Linked DNA regions of Homo sapiens. The protein of the gene in region 2 purifies or fractionates together with the protein of the main gene of each other region. This does not show direct contact. Each region holds a gene or a part of one and is shown on either strand. Other genes may lie near its edges.

Evidence for each region.
Region 1: the proteins of PYY (region 2) and PLXDC2 purify together in Homo sapiens (affinity purification with mass spectrometry; one large-scale study listed by BioGRID and IntAct). This does not show direct contact.

The regions. Positions count from the first base shown.
Region 1 is NC_000010.11:20,144,826-20,148,644, reverse strand, and holds part of PLXDC2 (plexin domain-containing protein 2 isoform 1 precursor), read right to left. Parts: intron 862-3,819; coding exon 743-861; intron 1-742. UniProt on the Homo sapiens protein: May play a role in tumor angiogenesis.
Region 2 is NC_000017.11:43,951,985-43,955,190, forward strand, and holds PYY (peptide YY isoform 1 preproprotein), read right to left. Parts: upstream 1,957-3,206; 5' UTR 1,866-1,956; intron 1,500-1,865; coding exon 1,312-1,499; intron 1,206-1,311; coding exon 1,125-1,205; coding exon of another isoform or gene 1,121-1,124; exon of another isoform or gene 997-1,120; coding exon 972-996; 3' UTR 749-971; downstream 1-748. UniProt on the Homo sapiens protein: This gut peptide inhibits exocrine pancreatic secretion, has a vasoconstrictory action and inhibitis jejunal and colonic mobility.

The DNA.
Region 1 (3,819 bases), on a different chromosome or scaffold from region 2:
GTTCCTGGAACTTTATTTTTATATTCTTAGTCCAACAGGCCTTACTTACTTTGTCAGAAGAGTTGGAAATCAAACACACAGTTATTCTAGTCTAAATATTCTGTAAATTTAAGGCTACAATTTAGTAAATTTTCATTCTTTACTTTGTCAGTTTGTTAAAATGAAACAAACCTAAGTTTAAATTTCCTTGTTTTTTCTGTCACTTAGGTCTCTAATTAATCTTTCCTATCTGGTTTCAACAAACATTAGCCAAAGCACAGCCATCCTAGAACTCTCTCAGTACTGGGTCCTTGAGCCACATAAGTTTTCGTGTCTATAAATGCTTTTGAAATTAGAACCAAAATATAACAAAGAAATCAACCAGGTGAAAAAAAAAAAACTAACTAAAGAAAATACGTAAATATAAACATTTACATTTAGATGAGAAATCCCTCCAAATTGAATTTTTTTTCTTAGAGACATTTCACTCTAATTACTCAATAATTAGTCAATATAATTACTCAATAATTTTATGAAATTGATGAGTCCTGATGCCAACAATATCAGAATACAAAAGAGCTAACAATCAATGCACCCAGAAAATTAAAACTAATCAAAACATTTTTTATTAAGCAAAGGAAACCAAGAGGCAAGAAAATGATTTGAGGATCATGGCTGTAAAATGTCCCTTTCTTGACATTTGGAGGAAAGGCAGCAGTCAAGAACAAGGGGAAGGGAAAGAAATTATCAACGCATCACTTACTTCTTTGTATCCAAAGATGATTCGTCCATCCATGAGCAGGGTTGCCTGGAATGTGAAGCTTCCCAGGTTATAATTATCCTGGAGATGTACATGGTCCCACTGGACCACAAGTGCTGTGCCTATACACCCATTGAAAAAAGAAGAAATGCAATGAGAAAAACATACCAATCAATTCTGGTGGGAGTTTTCACAAAAATGTTTTTGCATCTGGCCTTCAAATCTGGTAGTTGTACTATTTCGATTTTATGTGGTTAATCAAATTCTGTTATTGAAATAGCATTTGGGATTTTTTTTAAAGGATTGAGTACTCTCTAAATATTTAGTAAAATAGAACCTCATACTAAGGTCAATAATTGAGCTAATGCAGTGTGGGGGAATTTTGCCTTAGGAATTTTATTAATGTTAATAGATACTGTCTGCTTAAATTTCCATAAGCCACTTTCAAAATGCAGCCCAAGTGGATTGAATGAACTTCAAATACATTTGACAAATGCTGAGAGAGAAACACATCTAAAAAGTTAGGACCACATACAAAAGACCTGAAAATGTCTTTTCCATACTTAAAATTATACTTTTCCACATTGAAGGAGTTCCTTTAACACTAATGGGAATTTTCTCCTTGAGTTCACAATGCTTGTATTTCTGTCTTTGTTGTGTTTCTTCCAGGAAGCTGTAAGAAGCTCAAAGGGCCCTGGACTAAGATTTTTGAAGTCCCCTTGAAGCACACTGGGATGAAACTTCAGTGCTGTATATTATATTCTGAATCACTCTGTCAGTGTTTACCATAAACGATTGGGCATGAAATAAAAACTGAAACATAGTTTAATAGTCACCAGTGAGAATTCAAATTTTTGTTTTAACTGACATTGTGTACTCTCTTTTTTTAAAAAAAAAGAAAAGAAATGAGCTGCTAAGACTTTTTCTTCACTCTAAATATTAGATTTTTCTGTTTGGTTAGAAAAACTGTTGCCCAAAAAAGTTGTGCTGAAAATGAAAATCATAGAACTAAAAGAGCAAATCTTATCTCCCAGTAATAAATATCTGATATATTTAAAAATTACAATTGCATGGAAGAATTAATTTTCAGTAACTATTTGGTGCTATTAGTAATATCTCTTGAGCTGGTTGACAATTTTAAATAGACACATTATTTCAAATATTTTGAACACCCAATTGTAAGTCCTGAAAGGATGTTGAAGTAAAGAAATGTATTTCTTTTGAGGCAAAACTTTAAAAGTAAAAAAGAAAAAAAAGTTTTTTAACTTGACCTTGGTGCTTTTAGCCATTATCACTGCTGTGAGTGAAGACCACTCAGGTCTCTTCCTTCCACGGGCATCTCCGTGTCTATATTGTCCTGAGGGAGGGAGGGAGGGAGGGAGGGAGGAAGGAAGGAAGGAAGGAAGGAAGGAAGGAAAAAGAAAAGAAAAGAAAGAAAGGAAGGAAGGAAGGAAGAAAGGAAGAAAGAAAGAAAAAGAAAGAAAGAAAGAAAAGGAAGCAAGGAAGCAAGGAAGAAAGAAAGGAGGGAGGGAGGAAGGAAGGAGAAAAGAAAAGAAAGAAGGAAGAGAAAAGAAAAGAAGAGAAAACAAAAAAAATAGAGCAAAAGAAGACAGTAGCCAGGAAACCTCCCATGATTTTATAAGTATAGGAATTTTCTGATTGTGAAATGCCTCCTAACTTCTTTTTCCTTCACACATGTCTACAACCCTCAAGCTCTAGTCTATTCCTTATTTTCTAGTTTCTATCGCACTCTGGTGATGCAGTGAAAACAATGAACCAGAGGGCAGAAGACTTAGACTTGCATCTTGTCTCTATAAAACTTTCCATGTGAACTTGGACACAATTAATCTGCATGAACCCGTTTCCTTTCCTATAACATGGGGAGTATAGTTTTTGCCTTCAAGACATTCCTGCATTAAATACAAGAAAATATACTTACGCTTGATTATTTATGAAAATAAGAGGGCTATATAAATTAAAGTTTTTAATGCCAATTCTGAGGAAGGGATTCCTAATATTTTGTTAGTAGCAGGTTGTTAAAAACCACACTGTTGACCAGGTGCGGTGGCTCACAACTGTAATCCCAGCACTTTGAGAGGCCGAGGCAGGCGGATCACGAGGTCAGGAGATCCAGACCATCCTGGCTAACACGGTGAAACCCCATCTCTACTAAAAAAAATATTAAAAAATTAGCCGGGCGTGGTGGTGGGCGCCTGTAGTCCCAGCTACTCGGGAGGTTGAGGCAGGAGAATGGCATGAACCCGGGAAGCGGAGGTTGTAGTGAGCAGAGATCATGCCAGTGCAGTCCAGCCTGGGCGACAGAGTGAGACTCCATCTCAAAACACAAAAAACAAAAAAAAGTGTACTGTTTGCACATGTTAAGTTTTATATTATGTAATAGCATAGCTCTCTCAACATTTGCTGATTTAAATTTTCTAACCTGCTGCTGTCTTTTCCAGAGAAGTTTGCTTTCCTAAATTGTTGAGTTTCCAATCTTTAAGTATCCTGTCAATGATTCTAACTAAACTTGAAAATATTTCAGCAAGTTGTTGTGGTATTAAAAGGGCTTCGTGAAGAGTCTTACAGTGTTTAAAAGTGTTTCATTCATTTAATAAAACGTAAGTTTTCATTATCATATTGTTTGAACTCAATATTCCTCAATATTTGATTCCTATGGAATAAGTCATTACACAGAAGATATTTCAGTGGGTAAACAATACATGCATTCTTGAGTATTAATACTTTTACAATTCTCAGACATAAAACTCACTTTACGTATGTAATTATTTTTATTCATTCATTGAATAATTATTTAGGACCTACGTCCTAAATAATAAAGTGTCTATGCAGGGTACTGGAGATAAAATGATTTCTTATAGCCACAGTCCTTGTTTTTAAAGAACTTAAGAGTTCAGTTGGAGTAGTATACATCAATTTTTAAAAATCATTCAAATACGAGTAAAATTCAAATATTAAGAGCTACCTAGGAACAAGGTATATGAAAATATATGAAGAGAGACTTATTTAATATGCTTTATGATTTTGATAGCAACAGTATAAAAACTTGGTCATTAGAATCA
Region 2 (3,206 bases):
TTAAACATCCACAGAGCCTTTAGGCTTCAGTAGCTAGTCCAGGGGAGGGGGGTACATGGAGGGTGTCCCTATGGCCTTGTCACTAAGAAAGAACAGTTCGTGACTTATCCACTGCGTGTGAATTCAGCGAGATTGGGGAGGGAGGTTTCTTAGGGATAGGGCAGCCTCCACACTCCCATTGCTCCTCTACTCAGGGAAAGGGGGACGGTAGAAATGGCCTGCCTCTCCGGCCAGCACACGTACAGCCATCTCACCCCCACACGGCTCTTCCTCCACAGCCCCATTTTGGATTACACTTCACCTCCAGCCACTCCAGCCCTGGGCGCTAGTACTACAGCTCCTGGGGAAACGCCCCGGGGTGTTGGTGCCCGACTCGTCCCCCAGCCGTCTTCGGCTTCACGGGGTGGGGGAGGGACAGCCCTGACCCCATCTGCTCTCCTAGGCTGCCTAGCAGGCTCCTGTCGCCGCTCCCCGCCCCTTCTTCCAGAGTTCCATCCACTCCTGCCCCCACTCGACCAGAGTTCCTTCCACAGCAGTTCCTGGCCTGGGCGCTGTCCAGCTCCAGGCTGGGTGGTCGAGTCTTCCCTGGGCTCCGAGCAGAGGGAACTCCGCAGCCCGCCCCAGCCTTGTCCTGGGGCGCCTCTGTCCAAGTCGGTTTTCTCTTCCCTGGCCCCCACGCCTCCACCCTCCACTTCTACGGGATGCCACCTCCACGAAGGAGAAAGGAAAGGAAATACAAAGGCATACATTCCGTTTCTGTGGAATTTGCTCTTTATTTTGGGACCAGGGAAGGACCACACACAGCCCTCCAGCCCAGGGGGCGGGGGCACCGAGACGCGGGCGGAGGGCCGCACCCGAACCCTGCCCAGACGCCGCCGTCGGGAGGCAGAATCCGGGTTTCTGGGGTCGGGAGTGCGTATGCAAATGACGTGGGCGTGGTTGGCAGATCTCCCAGGAGGCCTCAGGGGTCCTCACCACAGGTCTGGGCCCTCCGACCTGCGGAAGCGAAGGGGAAGGAATTGGATCTGGGGAGGCGAGCCTGGGAGACGTCGTTAAGTGATGTTGCCAGGGTAGGGCCAGGCCGCGCTCTCGGATGCAGGATGTGTGGTAACGGGCGCTTTTACCGCGACCTGACGGGGCGGTCCTCGCCGTCGGGGAAGAACGTTTTGGAAAGAAGCGTGTCCGGGCCGTCTCTTTTCCCATACCTGGGGGCGGGGAAGGGAAGAGCGTGGTCAGATCTGGCCACGCCCCCAGGTGGAGCGGGGCCGCAGGGTGAGAGCCCCAGGGGTCCCGCTCCGCGCCTGCGCTCACCGCTGCCGGGTGACCAGGTTGAGGTAGTGGCGCAGGGAGGCGTAGTAGCGGTTCAGCTCCTCCGGCGAGGCGTCTTCGCGGGGAGCCTCGGGTTTGATGGGGTAGGCGTCGACCAGCGCCCCTAGGCAGACGAGCAGGGCCAGAAGCACTGTGGTCAAGGCGGGCCACGGCCTGCGCACGAACACCATCTGGGAAGGCGACATTGGGACGTGGGTCATTCCAAGCCTCGACCCTACACGGCGGGAGGCTGCGGCTGCCGTCGGGGCCGCGCTCCGACGCTCTCCCTGGGGCTGGTACCGGACCAAGGCTCAGCCACCGGGCTTGCTGTGTGTTCTTGGGCACTGCACCGTCTCCTGACTCAGTTTCCTCATGTCAGAGGAGCATAAGCCCTGCCTGCCTCCCCACCCCCACCCCCGCTGCTGGCCTCCTTCCCACCTCCGATGGCCCCCTCCAATCCAGTTTCCTACCACTCACCCCCAGCTTCCACCATCCCAGCCTCAGTTTCCCCACAAAACAGCCTGGGTTTCCCCAGGCTTGAGCCCCCAGCCACTCACAGCGATAGCTTGTGAAGCAGACGAGCAGGAGGTGGAAGGCGAGGGAAGTCCCAAGGGCTGCACTGCCGCAGGTCAAGCTGAGGCCTCCTCTGCTCAGCGCTTTCCTTGTGGGGCTTATATCCCCGCCTGGAAAGGGAGGGGGAGTCCCAGGGGGAGGGGGAGCCAGCAGGGGGTGGGCCCTTCTTCCTCCCTCCTTCCACCCTCGCCAGATCGCTGAGCTTATACCCAGCCAGTGCGTGATGTCTCCACCTCGCAGGAGCTGAGGGGGCAGTTGCCATGCTCAGATTCGTGGTCTCACTGGATGGGGTACCCAGCCTGAACCCCATGTTCACCCCACAGCCCCCCAGTGGCAGGTCTAGCCTCCTGAGGAAGTGAAGCGGTTGGATCTAGACTCCTGGGGCAGCCCCTAGGACCAGGGTTGAGATTCTGTCTTCCCTAGCCTGTCCGTGGATGGGAGTTGGGGGTGGGAGGGTGGACACATTCCCTCCAGTCCGTGGGATGTGTGACCACTCTTTCCAAAAGACAACCCTTTTCAGCCTCTGTTCAGTAATACCTTGGAGAAGGGCTGAGGAATGACAGGACCTTTTGGGGAAAGTCTTTCTCCTGGAGGCAGGGTGGGAGCACCTGACCTTGGCTCCTGACCTGCAGTTTATGGTGTCTTGGGGAGAGGCCTCTCTGAACACTCCATTATGTCCTCTCTCTATTAAAGAGTTGGAAAAGAGGCAGGAGGAGGCAGAAACCAATCTCCCCGCCAGAAGCAGCTGAGTCGGCCACCTGTGTATCCAGACTGGCACACACAGACCCCAGTCCAGCCATGTGTGGTATAGAGCCCCCTCCCAAGGCAGAGTGTCTCCACCCCTATGCAGGTGTCATTCAGAGCACTGGTGTCTTCTGGGCCTGAGTGATGCCAAGGCTTCCCAGGCACATGCCACTGTCCCCAGCCCATGGCAGTCTCCACTGGGCTCTAAGCCCAGATCCTTTGAAGGAAAGGACTCGTGTTTATTAAGCACCTACTATGCACTAGGTAGTGCATAATTTCGGGCATCACAAGACGATGAGCTGAGTTTATCTCCATTTTCCAGATGAGGAAACTGAAGCCCTGGGAGGTGATGGAGCAGCCAAGCTCACCCACAATTCAAACAGGAAAAGCAGGGTGAGGCAGAACCCAGGAAGAGGACCTCTCAATTGTGAGGGGCAGAAAGGCTCAGCACCTGGAGTAGCCATTGGGGCGCCAGAGGCAGGCCTGGGAGCAGGGACCCGAAGACTAAGTCTAGGGCCCACACCCACTCTGAGAGGCGGAGTAGGGGAAGGACCTTCAGACTGCCAACCCCCTCAAACCCA